Homo sapiens: one gene and its partner. The gene in region 1 interacts genetically with each later gene. Each region holds a gene or a part of one and is shown in the gene's direction. Other genes may lie near its edges.

Region 1 (7,019 bases):
ATCTTCTGGCCGGGCACGGTGGCTCACGCCTGTAATCCCAGCACTTTGGGAGGTTGAGGCGGGCAGATCACCTGAGGTCAGGAGTTCGAGACCAGCCTGGTCAACATGGCGAAACCCCATCTGTACTAAAAATACAAAAATTAGCTGGGAGTGGTGGTGCGCGCGTGTAGTTCCAGCTATTGGGAAGGCTGAGGCAGGAGAATTGCTTGCATCTGGGAGGCGGAGGTTGCAGTGAGGCAAGATCCCGCACTGTACTCTAGCCTGAGCGACGGAGTAAGACTCCGTCTCAAAAAAAAAAAAAAAAAAGGCCTGGCGCGGTGGCTTACACTTGTAATCCCAGCACTTTGGCAGGCTGAGGCGGGCGGATCACGAGGTCAGGAGATCGAGACCACGGTGAAACCCCGTCTCTACTAAAAATACAAAAAAATTAGCCAGGCGTGGTGGTGGGCACCTGTAGTCCCAGCTACTCGGAGAGGCTGAGGCAGGAGAATGGTGTGAACCCGGGAGGCGGAGGTTGCAGTGAGCCGAGATCGCGCTACTGCACTCCAGCCTGGGCGACAGAGTGAGACTCCGTCTCAAAAAAAAAAAAAAAGCATCTTCCCATAGGGCGATTGTGAGATTGAGGGAGGTGCAGGCTGGGCAGGAGCTGATGATCTCGGTGCCCATACGGGGGCTGACCAGGCTGGTGCTCAGTGGGGTAGGAGGGTTGCCAGAGGGCTGTTTCCCACAGCTTGCCTCCTGGATCTTTGTGGAGAGGCAGGCAGCAGTGGGGTCAAGGGGCCACAGATTTCCTCAAAGGGCCCTGCTGCATCACTCAAACGGAGGCAAACTTCACCACCCACTTTCTAGGTCTGTGAGCTGGGAGGATGACATGTGAAATGGGGCCAGGCATGGTGGCTCAAGCCTGGAATCCTAGCACTTTGGGAGGCTGAGGCCAGAGGATCGCTTGAGCCCAGGAGTTCAAGACCAACCCAGGCAACATAGTGAGACCTTGTCTCTCCAAATCAAAAAATTACTGGGTGTGGTAGCACATGTCTATAGTCCCAGCTACTCAAGAGGCTGCGGTTGGAGGATCACTTGAGCCCAAGAAGTTGAGCCATGATTGTACCACTGCACTCCAGCCTGGGTGACAGTGAGACCTGTCTCTTAAAAAAATAAAAAAATAAATAAATAAATAAATAAATAAATGTGACAATGGGTGTGTGGAAACAGTATCTGGTAGGCTCAGTGTAGGTGTTTAGTAAATGTTTCTCTTCCCCTGGAAGATGACAGATGCTTAGAGTCCTCTACTGGTAGGGGAGGCCTCTGTGGCCAGGTAGGTAACCCAGGTGATTGAAGGTGGCCAGGAAGTCAGATGGTGAACAAGGAGGGCAGCACAGCTCAGTATCAGCCAGACACTAATAGGGAGCAGAGGCCCCTGGGGGAAATGGGAGTGTCCATACCATTGTCTCCAGATCTGTTTTTCCAAGAGAAGCCAGAGGTAACCACAGCTCCTGACTTCTAACAGTTGGCAGCTAATTCAAATTTTAAATGTGTGGGCCAAACACACCTGCAGGCCAGATCCAGCTGTGTGAGATCTGTGCACTGTGATCTACTGAGGCCCCCTCCTCAGGGAGCTAGATTTCCTCAGGGTGCCTGTGGAGAGATGAAGGCACTGGCTGTGGAGCCTGATGGGCCTGGGTTCCAGTCCTGGCCTCACCACTTTGAGCTGTGTGATCTCGGGCAACACCCTGAAGCTCTTGGATCCCCTGTTCTCTCTGGGCGGGGACATTGTCTGCCTCACAGGGCAATTGTGAGGGTTGAAGGAGATGTTACGGGCGGTTGTAAGCAGCGGGTTACAAAGCTGCTCCTCTCCCCATACAGGGGGTGAGCTTCATTCATTCATTCCTCTTATGTCAGTGTCCTCCAGTGGGACCCCCCATGCCAAGGCCTGCCGCTCATGCTAGACCACCCTGGTAAAGTGGACAGGACAGGCTGGGCCCCAGGTTCTTCCCACGGAGTCATCAAACATTTGGATGTCCAGAGCATGCTGTCTAAAAGGCCTCTCTGTGCCCCCAGCACCCGCATTCTGTATGCTGTGCCTGAGCCCACCTTTTCTCCCTGGGCAGAGACAGCTGTGGCAGCAGAGCCCAAGCAGAGAGAGCTCCTCTCTCTCTAAATGGGCTCTTGTGAGGATCAATTAGGATGACGTTTATTCGCCCTGTGCCAAATCCCTGGCACAGAGAGTGTGCTCACAATGGCCATGGTGGCTGCTACAGTAGCAGTGGTGATTTGGGTTCTTTGTGGTCCTGGTGTGCTACTCATTTAACGTTTATTGAGAACGGACTGTGGTCCAGGCGCTGTTCTAGGTACTGAAGATAGAGCCATGCAGACAAAGTCCTGCCCTCACAAAACTTACAGTTCAGGGTGGAAAGACATGATAAGCCAAAGAGGGCTCTGGGACATGTGGGGTATCAGAAGGCGGTGAGTGCTGTGGAGAAAAATGAAAAGGGGATCGGGGCCGGGCGTGGTGGCTCACGCCTGTAATCCCAGCACACTGGGAGGCTGAGGCAGGTGGATCACCTGAGGTCAGGAGTTCGAGACCAGCATGACTAACATGGTGAAACCTCGTCTCTACTAAAAATACAAAATTAGCCGGGTGTGGTGGCGCATCCCTGTAATCCCAGCTACTTAGGCTGAGGCAGCAGAATCTCTTGAACCTGGGAAGTGGAGGTTGCGGTGAGCCGAGATTGTGCCACTGCACTCCAGCCTGAGTGACCAGAGCAAAACTCCACCTCAAAAAAAAAAAAGAGGGGATTGGGAGTGGGAGCATTTGCCATTTTAAACAGGGCTTGGTGAAGGCCTTGCTGATGAGGTGGTATTTGAGTAATGAACAGAAAAAGACCGGGGAGCGAGTCACAGGCGTCCGAGAGCAGTGCCCACCCAGGCCCGAGGCGAGAGGGCACCTGGATGGTTTGAGGCCAGCATGGAGGCCAGTGTGGCTGGTGGAGAATGAGGGGTTGGGGCTGGGGAACTGAGCGGGGCGGGGCGGGGTGGGGTGTTGTGGCGAGAGAAAGGACTCTGAGGGAGATGGAGATAGGGTGCATCTGGCAGGTGACTCTGGTCACTTTTCTTTTTTTTTGAGAGAGAGTGTTGCCCTGTCACCCAGGCTGGAGTGCACTGGAGTGCAATGGCACCATCTCAGCTCACTGCAACCTCCACCTCCCGGGTTCAAGCAATTCTCCTGCCTCAGCCTCCTGAGTAGCTGGGATTACAGATGCTCGCCACCATGCCTGGCTAATTTTTGTATTTTTAGTAGAGGTGGGGTTTCACCATATTGGCTAGGCTGGTCTTGAACTCCTGACCTCAAATGATCCACCCACTTTGGCCTCCCAAAGTGCTGGGATTACAGATGCCCACCACCATGCCTGGCTAATTTTTGTATTTTTAGTAGAGGCGGGGTTTCACCATATTGGCTAGGCTGGTCTTGAACTCCTGACCTCAAATGATCCACCCACTTTGGCCTCCCAAAGTGCTGGGATTACAGGCCTGGGCCATCACGCCAAGCCGACCCTGGCCATTCTCTTGCTGGGGTGAGAATAAACTCCAGAGGGTGAAGGGGAGGCAGGGACACTGCCAGGAGACTTGTGCAGTAAAATCTGCTGGAGGCGGGCAGCGGGTGGTAGAGGTGAGGAGTAAGAAGCAGTTGGATACCAGACATATTGAAGGGATGGATATGGTGATGGAGTCGGCAGCGACTGGAAGGCTTTGGGTGCTGTGGGTGACTGAGGTGGGGCAGCCTCGGGGAGGAGCAGTTGTTCGGAGGTTGATCTCAGCTGCACTCAGTGGAAATGCCTGTTGGACAGTTCAGAGGAGGTGTGGTGAGGCTGGTAGATAGGAGGATCGTAATTGGAGTTGAGAGTTGAGATTCACACTTGGGGCTATTTAAATCCTTGAGACTTTGGCTAGGGGCAATGGCTCATGCCTGTAATCCTAGCACTTTGGGAGGCCAAGGTGGGTGGATCACTTGAGGGCAGGAGTTCAAAACCAGCCTGGCCAACATGGTGAAACCCCATCTCTACTAAAAATACAAAAAAATTAGCCGGGCATAGTGGCGCGCGCCTGTAGTCCCAGCTACTCAGGAGGCTGAGACAGGAGAATTGCTTGAACCCGGAAGGCGGAGGTTGCAGTGAACCGAGATCGCGCTACTGCACTCCAGCCTGGACGACAGAGCGAGACTGTCTCAAAAAAAAAAAAAAAAAATTGCTTGAGACTGATGTCGTCAAGAGAGCAAGTATAATTTACATTTTTGTAGAGATGAGGTCTTGTTGTGTTGCCCAGGCTAGCCTTCAACTTGATCCTCCCCCCTTGGCCTCCCAAAACACTGGGATTACAGGTGTGAGCCACTGTACCTGGCCATGAGAGTGAGTGTAGTTTCAAAGAGGAAGCTGGCCGGGTGCGGCACTTTGGGAGGCCGTGGCAGGCAGATCACATGAGCCCAGGAGTTCGAGACCAGCCTGGGCAATATGGTGAAATCCCGTCTCTACAAAAAATACAACAATTAAATGGGTGTGGCGGTGTGCACCTGTAGTTCCAGCTACTCTGAAATCTGAGGTGGGAGAATTGCTTGAGCCTGGTAGGTTGATGCTGCAGTGAGCCGTGATCTTGCCACTGCACTCCAGCCCAGGTGACATAGAAAGCCCTGTCTCAGAAAAGAAAAAAAAAAGAAAAGTGGAAGCTGTCCCAGGCCTGAGCAGGGCGGGGTAGGCACATGGGAGACAGCCCTCATGCCCGTGGTCACATGGCAGGCACAGTGGCTAAGTGTGCAGTGACTGTTTTCCTTTTTCCTTTTTTGAAACGGAGTCTCCCTTTGTTGCCCAGGCTGGAGTGCAGTGGAGCGATCTCGGCTCACTGCAATCTCCACCTCCTGGGTTCAAGTGATTCTCTTGCCTCAGCCTCCAGAGTAGCTGGAACTACAGGTGTGTGCCACCACGCCCAGTTAATTTTTGTATTTTTAGTAGAGACGGGGTTTCACCATGTTGGCCAGGATGGTCTTGATCTCTTGACCTCGATATCTGCCTGCCTCAGCCTCCCAAAGTGCTGGGATTATAGGCGTGAGCCACCACACCCAGCCTCAGTGACTGTTTTCTTGCAGGTGACACACCATGTCTCGAAGGGTGCTGTATGGTTTGGTGGCATCCCTGACCCTCAGAGCTTAGAGAGATGAGGAGTGGCCTTGGAGGCAGGAGGAAGACAAGGAGAGGGTGGGGGCGCCAGCCCAGGGAAGGAGGCATCTAGGCAGGGCCACAGCCAGTGGCCTCAGTTCTGCTAAGGGGCCAGTGGGGGTGGGGCGCTGGGTTTGCCCCCTCTGATTGAGGGCGTTCAGCTGACCTTGGCTAGAGCAAAAGCCTCCCGAGGGAGAAAAGAGGTGGAGGCAGCACGGACAGCTTCATGAGGAGTTTTGCTGTAAAGAAAGCAGAGAAATTGAAGGGTAGCCAGACAGAAACGTAAAGTCCAGGATTCCCTTCCTTTTAAAGAAGTAGCTGAATGTGTATATGCTGTTGGGTCTAAACCAGTAGGGTGGGAAAAATTGATGATGGGGGTACTTCCTAGGATGATGTCTTTTTTTTTTGAGATAGGGTCTCACGCACTCTGTCACCCACGCTAGAGTGTAGTGGTGCCATCACAGCTCACTGTAGCCTCGACCTCCTGGGCCCACACAGTCCTCCGACCTCAGCCTCTCGAGTGGCTGGGACCACAGGATGCACCACCATGTGCAGCTCACTTGCTTATTTTTCAAGATGGAGTTTTGCTCTGTTGCCCAGGCTGGAGTGCGATGGCGCAATCTCGGCTCACTGCAACCTCTGCTTCCCGGGTTCAAGCGATTCTCCTGCTTCAGCCTCCCGAGTAGCTGGGATTACAGGCATGCACCACCATGCCGAGCTAATTTTATATTTTCAGTAGAGATGGAGTTTCGCCATGTTGGTCATGCTGGTCTCGAACTCCCGACCTCAGGTGATCCAACCACCTCAGCCTCCCAAAGTGCTGCGATTACAAGCGTGAGCCATCGCGCCCAGCCACTTATTTTTTTTAGAGAGACGGGGGTCTCACTGTGTTGCCCAGGCTGGTCTCGAACTCCTAGGCTTAAGCGTCCTCCCACCTTGGCCTCCCAAAATGTTGGGATTATAGGTGTGAGCCATGGCGCCCAGCTTGGAATGATGTGCTTGAGCCTGAGGGTGGGGGTGGGCTAGTGTGGAGTGGAGAGGCAGCTTAGGTGGCAGCTGGAACAGATCCTCTGAGGATTGTGGGAGGAGGCCAAAGGCAGATGTGCTGGTGGGGGCTGAGGAAAAAAGACAAGGTCATCAGCTGGGGGTAGGAGCAAGATGGGTAGGGGAGAGGGGAGGGTGCCCAGGCCAGGGGAGTGAAGTGTGCTTGCCAGGTGAAGTGTGCGTGGTGGGTGGGCACCTGTAATCCCAGCTACTTGGGAGGCTGAGGCAGGGGAATCGTTTGAACCCGGGAGGTGTAGGTTGCAGTGAGCCGAGATCGCGCCACTGCACTCCAGCCTGGGCAACAAGAGCAAAACTCTGTCTCAAAAAAACAAGTAGAGGAGGGAGGCTGTTTCTAGCCCCAGGAGGGCTGCGGGCAAGGCTTAGAGGTGGGGGAACTCTTCTCAGTGTGGCGGGAGCGGGGCTGAGCTGGGCTGTGCAGAGGGCCCCAGCCACCTGGTTGAGGCGTGGAGGCCAGCACTCCACCCTGGCCCTGACTTGCTTGCCCTGAAGTTCTCTTGGGCTGAAAGACTGGAGGAAACGCATTGCTCAAGGACATTCACTCACCTGTTGTTGTACAGTCCTGTAGGCCCCGCAGAACTTTAGTGACCCATGCAACTAGTTTGTCCTTAAGTGCCCAGCTTCCTGCCGTCTTTTGGGAGGACTCTGGGCAGTGGGCCGCTCCCATTGCCACATTCAGCAGCCTGTTTCAGGGACCCAGGGTGGCAGGTGGCTGCTGGGAGCTCAGTTGCCACCTTTGGAGTGTGACCTTTG
Region 2 (7,692 bases), on another chromosome or scaffold:
CCTTAGATCGACAAGCAGCATCCAAAGACACCAAAAACTTAGGCTCATCAAGTATTAACTTCCTGCCTCAGCCTCCCAAGTAGCTGAGATTACAGGTATGTGCTAGCATCCTACTTATTGTTCACTCTGATAGAATTTTTTTTTCTTTGAGATGAAGTTTTGCTCTTGTCGCCCAGGCTGGAGTGCAATGGCATGATCTTGGCTCACTGAAACCTCTGCCTCCCAGGTTCAAGCAATTCTCCTTGCTCAGCCTCCCGAGTAGCTGGGATTACAGGCTACTTTTTGCAAGGCTAATTTTTGTATTTTTAGTAGAGACGGGGTTTCACAATGTTAGCCAGGCTGGTCTCGAACTCCTGACCTCAGGTGATCCACCCGCCTTGGTCTCCCAAAGTGCTGGGATTACAGGCGTGAGCCACCGCACCCAGTCTAGGTCAAGTTTTTCATCTCTTTCCTTTCCAAGGAGTTAAAGCTGAATTTCAAATTTTACAGTGAAATACACAATTCTAATTTTCTTTCTTTCTTTTTTTTTTTTTTGAGATGCAGTTTTGCTCCTGTTGCCCAGGCTGGAATGCAGTGGCACAATCTTGGCTCATCGCAACCTCTGCCTCCCAGGTTCAAGTGATTCTCCTGCCTCGGCCTCCCAAGTAGCTCGGATTACAGGCACACACCACCATGCCCAGCTAATTTTTGTATTATTATTATTTTTTTCTTAGTAGAGATGGGGTTTTTCCATGTTGGTCAGGCTGGTCTCTATCTCCCGACCTCAGGTGATCCGCCCATCTCGGCCTCCCAAAGTGCTGGGATCACAAGCATGAGCCACTGCACCGGGCCCACAATTCTAATTTTCAAATATATCTTCCTCCTGGAGGAGTGATATTCCAGTTTTGGGTGCAATCCTGATGTAGAGCCCAACTGTCCTGTGAAGAGAGTCAGCTGTTAAAAGGAAACCAAAAAATCAAGGTAGCTCTAGCTGTCCAATTTTACAAGTTTTCAACAGACTTGATGAGGGGTGAGCTAAAGGCGGTCAATGCTTTATTGTCTGTAACTCACTGGCACTGGCATTTCTAGAGTTGCTCACGTTCCCCCTTTTGGTGACTCACAGCACTTCAACATGTTGCCACAGCCAAGGAAAAAAGGAAATCAAGTCAGACAATGGAGGAATCACAGGATTTCCCTCTTCACATCCCCAGGTAGATGAGGTCATTCAATGAGTGTGTTTCCAAGGCTCCACAAATTCCCACACCCTCACCAGTGTTTAAACCTGAATGTTTTATCTGATAACTTTTTCTAATTTCACCAAGTAAGCTTATATATGTCTTAACTGTGAACTCCTGATAAGCACAAATTTTGTCTTGTGATAATTTATTTTTTTCTTTTTTGAGACAGGGTCTCACTCTGTCACCCAGGCTGGAGTGCAGTGATGCGATCTCAGCTCACTGCAATCTCCACTTCGTGGGCTCAAGTGATCCTCCAACCTCAAACTCCCCAGTAGCTGGGATTACAGACACGCGCCACCCCGCCCGTTTAACTTTTTTGTATTTTTAGTAGAGACGGGGTTTCACCATGTTGGCCAGGCTGATCTCGAACTCCTGACCTCAGGTGATCCGCCTGCCTCGGCCTCCCAAAGTGCTGGGATTACAGGAGTGAGCCACTGCACCGGCCAGCGTTTCTTTCTTCAATCACACTCCACCTTGTCTGGTTTGTAGCGCCATCAACAAAACACAGTACGTAAGGATGGACAGCCACAGGCCACGACAACCGGCTCATCAGAAGCGATTTTTTTTTTTTTTTTTTTTTTTTTTAGATGGAGTCTTGCTCTGTCGCCCAGGCTGGAGTGCAATGGCGTGATCTCGGCTCACTGCAACCTCTGCCTCCCGGGTTCAAGCGATTCTCCTGCCTCAGCCTCCTAAGTAGCTGGAGCTACAGGCTCACGTTACCATGCCCGGCTGATTTTTGTATTTTTAGTAGAGACGGGGTTTCACTATGTTGGCCAGGCTGGTCTCGGACTCCTGACCTCAAGCAATCCGCCCGCCCTGGCCTCCCAAAGTGCTGGAATTACAGGCGTGAGCCACCGACCCGGCCCAGACGCGATTTAAATGGCATGACACAGGCAGGCCTCGTGCAAAGACTGCAAGGAGGTCCCGGCAGCTTTTGCAGGGCAATTAATCCACCCAGAGCACTGCGCTCAGAAAGTAATAGGTAAACCCGCGTCCGGACTAACCGGCTGCCCCCACACTTGATCCCTCCCAGTCCGACTCTGCTCCAGGGCGTACCAGGGTTCACTCGTGAAGTCACGACACCCACTCAAGGGGCACTTCCTATAGAGATAAGGGCATTAGAGGAAGGGCAGAGCCCCGGTCAATGCCAACAGCCCGGGAAACAGCCAAGCCGGGCTCCAATCTCTGCCGGCATCCCCTGTCTGCACCGCCGACGCCCCCAGCTACGACCCCGGGGGTCACCTCGCCCAGCATAGCCGTGACGCTGGGAGAGGGTGGGCCCAACGGGGACGCCAAAGAGAGCCATTCAGGCCTCCCCGCGCCCCCGGGGAGACGACTTCTGGAGAGCGGCGTCCGCGGTTTCGCCCTCCCCTGACAGCCCCTCCACGCCCTTCTTCGTCCTTCTGCCCGGCCTCACCCAGCTTCCGGCCGCCCCCGGCCGGGTCTCCCCTCAGACCGGCGCAGGGGACCCAAAGGGCTGTGGCCCGGCCAAGCCCAGGTCCGAAGGCCTGGACCGAGGCAGGGCCCGCGAAGGACGCAGCGCGGTCCGAGAAGCCGGGCGGAAGGAAGGCCCCGGGAGGGCGCGGACAGCTCACCTGCCGCAGGTCGCTGTCGCCTGTCCGCCAGCCTCCAGTCAGCGTGCCCGTCAGCGACTCCCTCAGGCGCCGCAGTCCCTGCAGCCCAGCGGACTGGCGCGAGGCCGGCGCAACGTGGGCACGCAGCGCGGGGCGGGGCCTAGAGATGACACGCCCCTTGTAGCTGACACGCCCTTGCCGGGGGCGGGAAGCGGAGTATGTGGCTTTCCCCAGGTCTCTGGAGGTTGCAGGCTCAGGCTCTGCTCAGCGGGGTAAGTAGGCGTGCTTCGGCAGGAACACTAGTGTTCACAAGAGCCGAGGTGTGTGAGGGTGCCTCAGGGTTGAGCACTTTTCTTCCCCAGTGTGGTTTAATCCTTGTACATCCACTCAGTGATGTAAGAAATAGGGTTGTCAACCGTGGCACCACCCACTTGGTCACTTGCCAATGCAATCTGCGAAACTGAGTCTCAACTCTGACACCTCGGTTACCAGTCTTGTATCTGATCTCCCTGTTGCATTATTCGCATTCTTCAAACAGCGGCCAGAATGACAGAATGATTTTTCTTTTTTTGAGACCGAGTTTTGCTCGTCGCCCAGGCTGGAGTGCAATGACGTGATCTCGGCTCACTGCAACCCCCTTCTCCCGGGTTCAAGCGATTCTCCTGCCTTAACCTCCCGAATAGCTGGGATTACAAGCGCCTGCCACCACGCCCGGCTAATTTTTGTATTTTTAGTAGAGACGGGGGTTTCACCATGTTGGCCAGGCTGGTCTCGAACTCCTGAGCTCAGGTGATCCACCCGCCTCGGCCTCCCAAATCACTGCAATTACAGGCCACCGCACCCAGCCCAGAGTCATTTTTTAGTTTTACTGAACACAAAGAAATTACTGAAATCGTGGGCCGGGTGTGGTGGCTCATGTCTGTAATCCCAGCACTTTGGGAGCCTGAGGCGGGAAGATCACTTGAGGTCAGCAGTTCGAGACCAGCCTGGCCAGCATGTTGAAACCCCGTCTCTACCAAAAATACAAAAAAATTTTAGCCGGGCATGGTGGCTCCTGCCTGTAATCCCAGCTACTCAGGAAACTGAGGCAGGAGAATCACTTGAACCCAAGAGGCGGAAGTTGCAGTGAGCCAAGATCGCACCACCACTGCACTCCAGCCTGGGCCACAGAGCAAGACTCCACCTTGAAAACAAAAAACAAAAACAAAAAAAAACTGAAATCAGTGCAAGTAGCAGCAACTTCAGAAGTGAGTTAGGGCTGGGCACGGTGGCTCCCACCTGTACTCCCAGCACTTTGGGAGGCTGAGGTGGGTGGATCACTTTAAGTCAGGAGTTCGAGACCTGCCTGGTCAACCTGGTGAAACCCCGTCTCTACTAAAAAATACAAAAATTAGCCGGGCTTGGTGGCACATGCTTGTAATCCCAGCTACTCGGGAGGCTGAGGCAGGAGAATCTCTTGAACCCGGGGGGCGGAGGTTGCAGTAAGCCGAGATCGCGCCACTGCACACCAGCCTGGGCGACGGACCAAGACACTGTCTCAAAAAAATAAAAATAATAAAATTTTAAAAGTGAGTTAGGCAAAGAAAATATCAAGCGGACAAGGCCTCAAGGGATAAGACTCATGGACATAGCTTTAATTATCTTTGCCTGACGCCCAATACCTGAAAATTAAGATGTTCATGCAAGATAAAGAGGTAATTTTTCTCCTCCTCCCAGTCATCACCCGTAGCATCCGGTTAAGAGGCTCTCCACCTCGCTCATTTTGGTCTAACTGGATTTACACAAACTCACTGTGCACGTGCCTGGGGCGGGCAAACCCGGAAACGACGCCGAGTCCCGCGGGATCCAGGAGGAGCCAACTGCGCCGGAGGAGGGGTTTCGGCCGACACGTCGGGATTGGCGGCTGCAGCCAGGGGTCCTCCGACGCTGGGCTTCCGTGAGCGGCGCTCTGCCAGGTGGGGCCGGAGCTGCGGGGAGGGAGTTGGCGCCTAGCGCGCAGCTCCATCCCCGCCTCTGCAGTGGACTCGGCCGCAGAATCGGGGTCCCGGGCTCCTGGAACTTGTCCCGCCCAGGCCGCGGCGAGGAGGTCACTCCAGCCGGTGGGACCCGGGCCGGGGGGCGGGTGACTGGAACCGGGGGAGGCGGGAAGGAGGAGGGGATCGGGCCCAAGGGACACGAGGTGGGTCGCGGGACCCCGATATCTCGGGACAGGCGTCTTGCCGCTCCGGGCCCAGCCGCCCCCTTCGACACATACTCGATGCATAGACAATGGGGGTGTCCTTTGTCGCTCCTGGCGGGAACCCCGGCCCCACCCCCAACTCCACGCCTCCCATTACCCCCAGATCTCTGGACCGGATTCGTCCCATTCTCGTCCTCATGGTGGACAAGAAACTGGTGGTGGTTTTCGGAGGCACAGGTGAGCCAAACCCCAGACTGGGGCCCTTGCAGAGCCAGGGCGCCTAGCCCTGAAGACCGCCCGTCCTGGGGTCTGCAGGGAGGGGTAAGGTCACTGGGACCCCCGACCCAGGTTGGGGCTGTGGTCGCAGGAACGAGGCCCAAATTGCTTTCCAATTTTTTTTTTTTTGGACGGAGTTTTGCTCTGTCACCCAGGCTGCAGTGCGATGGCACGATCTCGGCTCATTGCAACCTTTGCCTCCCGGGTTGAAGCGATTCTCCTGTCTCAGCCTCCCGAGTAGCTGGGATTACAAGGGCATGCCACCACGCCCGGCTAATTTTTGTATTTTTAGTAGAGACGGGGTTTCATCATATTGGTCAGGCTGGTCTCAAACTCCTGACCTCAGGTGATGACCCGCCTCGGCCTCCCAAAGTGCAGGTATTACAGGCATGAACCACCACGCCAGACCTGCTTTCCAAATTAAAAAAAAATGAGTTACTTAACTTATTTGAATAGGAGTACTTGAACATGATACCAAAATTAAATCTTCTTCCTAGCCTCCTCTTCCACCTCATCTATTGCTGTTACCAAGTTTCTTGAATATCCTGCCAGAGTAGATAACATGTTATCATTTTTTCAAATGATAGCATATTATTTCATTCCTATTTTTTCTTATTTATACATATTTAATATCTCTAACAGCTTTATTGAGATATAATTCACGTACTATACAATCTACCTGTTTAAAGTGTGCAACTCACTGGTTTCTAGTGTATTCATAGAATTGTACAACCATCACCACAATCAATTTTAGAAAATTTCCATCACTCCAAAAAGAAACTCTGGCCCAGGTGCAGTGGCTCAACCCTGTAATCCCAGCACTTTAGTTGGACCAAATGGGCAGATCGCTTGAGCTGAGGTGTTTGAGACCAGCCTGAACAACAGGGCAAAATCTCGTCTCTACAAAAAAATACAAAAATTAGTGGGGCGTGGTGTCATGCACCTATAGCTACCTAGGAGGTTGAGGTGGGAGGATCACCTGAGTCCAGCAGGTCAAGGCTGCAGTGACCTGATTGTGCCACTGCACTCCAGCCTGGGCAACAGAGTGAGACCTGATCTCAAAAAAAAAAAAAAAAAAAAGAACTCCATGAACCCGTGAACAGTTACTCCCCATTCTTACTCCTCCCAGCCAACCCCTAGAAAGCTCCAATCTACTTTTGGTTTCTATGGATTTGTCTATTCGGGACATTTCATATGAATAAAATCATAATATGTAGCCTTTTCTCTCTGGCTTCTTCAGTTAGCATGTTTTCAAGGTTTGTTCATGTTGTAGTGTGTGTCCGGGCTTTACTCTTTTTTTTTTTTTTTTTGAGACAGAGTCCCGCTCTGTTGCCCAGGCAGCAGTGCAGTGGCGTGATCTCTGCTCACTGCAACTTCTGCCACTCGGGTTCAAGCGATTCTCCTGTCTCACCCTCCTGAGTAGCAGGGACTACAGGCGTGAGCCACCATGCCTGGCTAATTTTTGTATTTTTAATAGAGATGGGGTTTTGCCATGTGGCCAGGCTGGTCTCAAACTCCTGACCTCAGGTGATCTGCCCACTTCAGCTTCCTAAAGTGCTGGGATTAGAGGCTTGAGCCACCGCGCCCGGCCAACTTTACTTTTTTATTTTTAAGACAGAGTTTCTCTCTTGTTGCCCAGGCTGGAGTGCAATGGTGTGATCTCTGCTCGCTGCAACCTCTGCCTCCCGGGTTCAAGCAATTCTCCTGCCTCAGCCTCCCAAGTAGCTGGGATTACAGGTGTGCACCACCACACCCAGCTAATTTTGTATTTTTTAGTAGAGACGGGGTTTCACCATGTTGGTCAGGCTGGTCTCGAACTCCTGACAGCTTTACTTATTTTTATGGCTGAGTAATATTCCACCGTATGGATAGACTATATTCTGTTTGTCCATTCGTCAGTGGATGGATACTTGATTTATTTCCACTTTTTGGCTATTATGAATAATGCTGCCATGGAACATTGGTGTACACTTTTTTCTGAGTCAGGGTCTTGCTCTGTTGCCCAGGCTGGAGTGCAGTGGCTCAATCATCACTCACTACAGCTTTGACTTCCAAGCCTCAAGCAATCCTCCTGACTCATTCGCCTGAGTAGCTGGGACTTCAGATGAGCGCTAACAGGCCCAGCTGATTTTTTAATTTTTTGTAGAGACTGGGTCTCACCCTGCTGCCTAGGCTGGTCTCAAACTCCTGGCCTCAAGCAAAACCCATCCCCCTTACCCTCCCAAAGTGCTTAGATTACAGCTATGAGCTACTGTGCCCGGCCTCAGTCCTTATTTTTGATGCATTTCTGTGTAAATTGCAGATATGTGTACACCGCCCTTCCATACTAAAGCATGCATAACATTAGCTAGAATTCAGTATTTGTTTATAGATTATTTTTAATTATGAGGTAAAATATACATATAATAAAGAATTTTTTTTTTTTTTTTTTTTTGGAGACAGGGCC

What was found. Genes that interact genetically often act in the same process or in processes that back each other up.
Region 2: of OTUB1 (region 1) and NMRAL1, changing one suppresses a phenotype caused by changing the other (phenotypic suppression), as found in Homo sapiens cells (one study listed by BioGRID).

The regions. Positions count from the first base shown.
Region 1 is NC_000011.10:63,989,438-63,996,456, forward strand, and holds part of OTUB1 (ubiquitin thioesterase OTUB1), read left to right. Parts: intron 1-7,019. UniProt on the Homo sapiens protein: Hydrolase that can specifically remove 'Lys-48'-linked conjugated ubiquitin from proteins and plays an important regulatory role at the level of protein turnover by preventing degradation.
Region 2 is NC_000016.10:4,471,608-4,479,299, reverse strand, and holds the start of NMRAL1 (nmrA-like family domain-containing protein 1), read left to right. Parts: upstream 1-4,674; 5' UTR 4,675-4,746; exon of another isoform or gene 4,747-4,890; intron 4,891-5,133; 5' UTR 5,134-5,167; coding exon 5,168-5,207; intron 5,208-7,692. UniProt on the Homo sapiens protein: Redox sensor protein. Undergoes restructuring and subcellular redistribution in response to changes in intracellular NADPH/NADP(+) levels.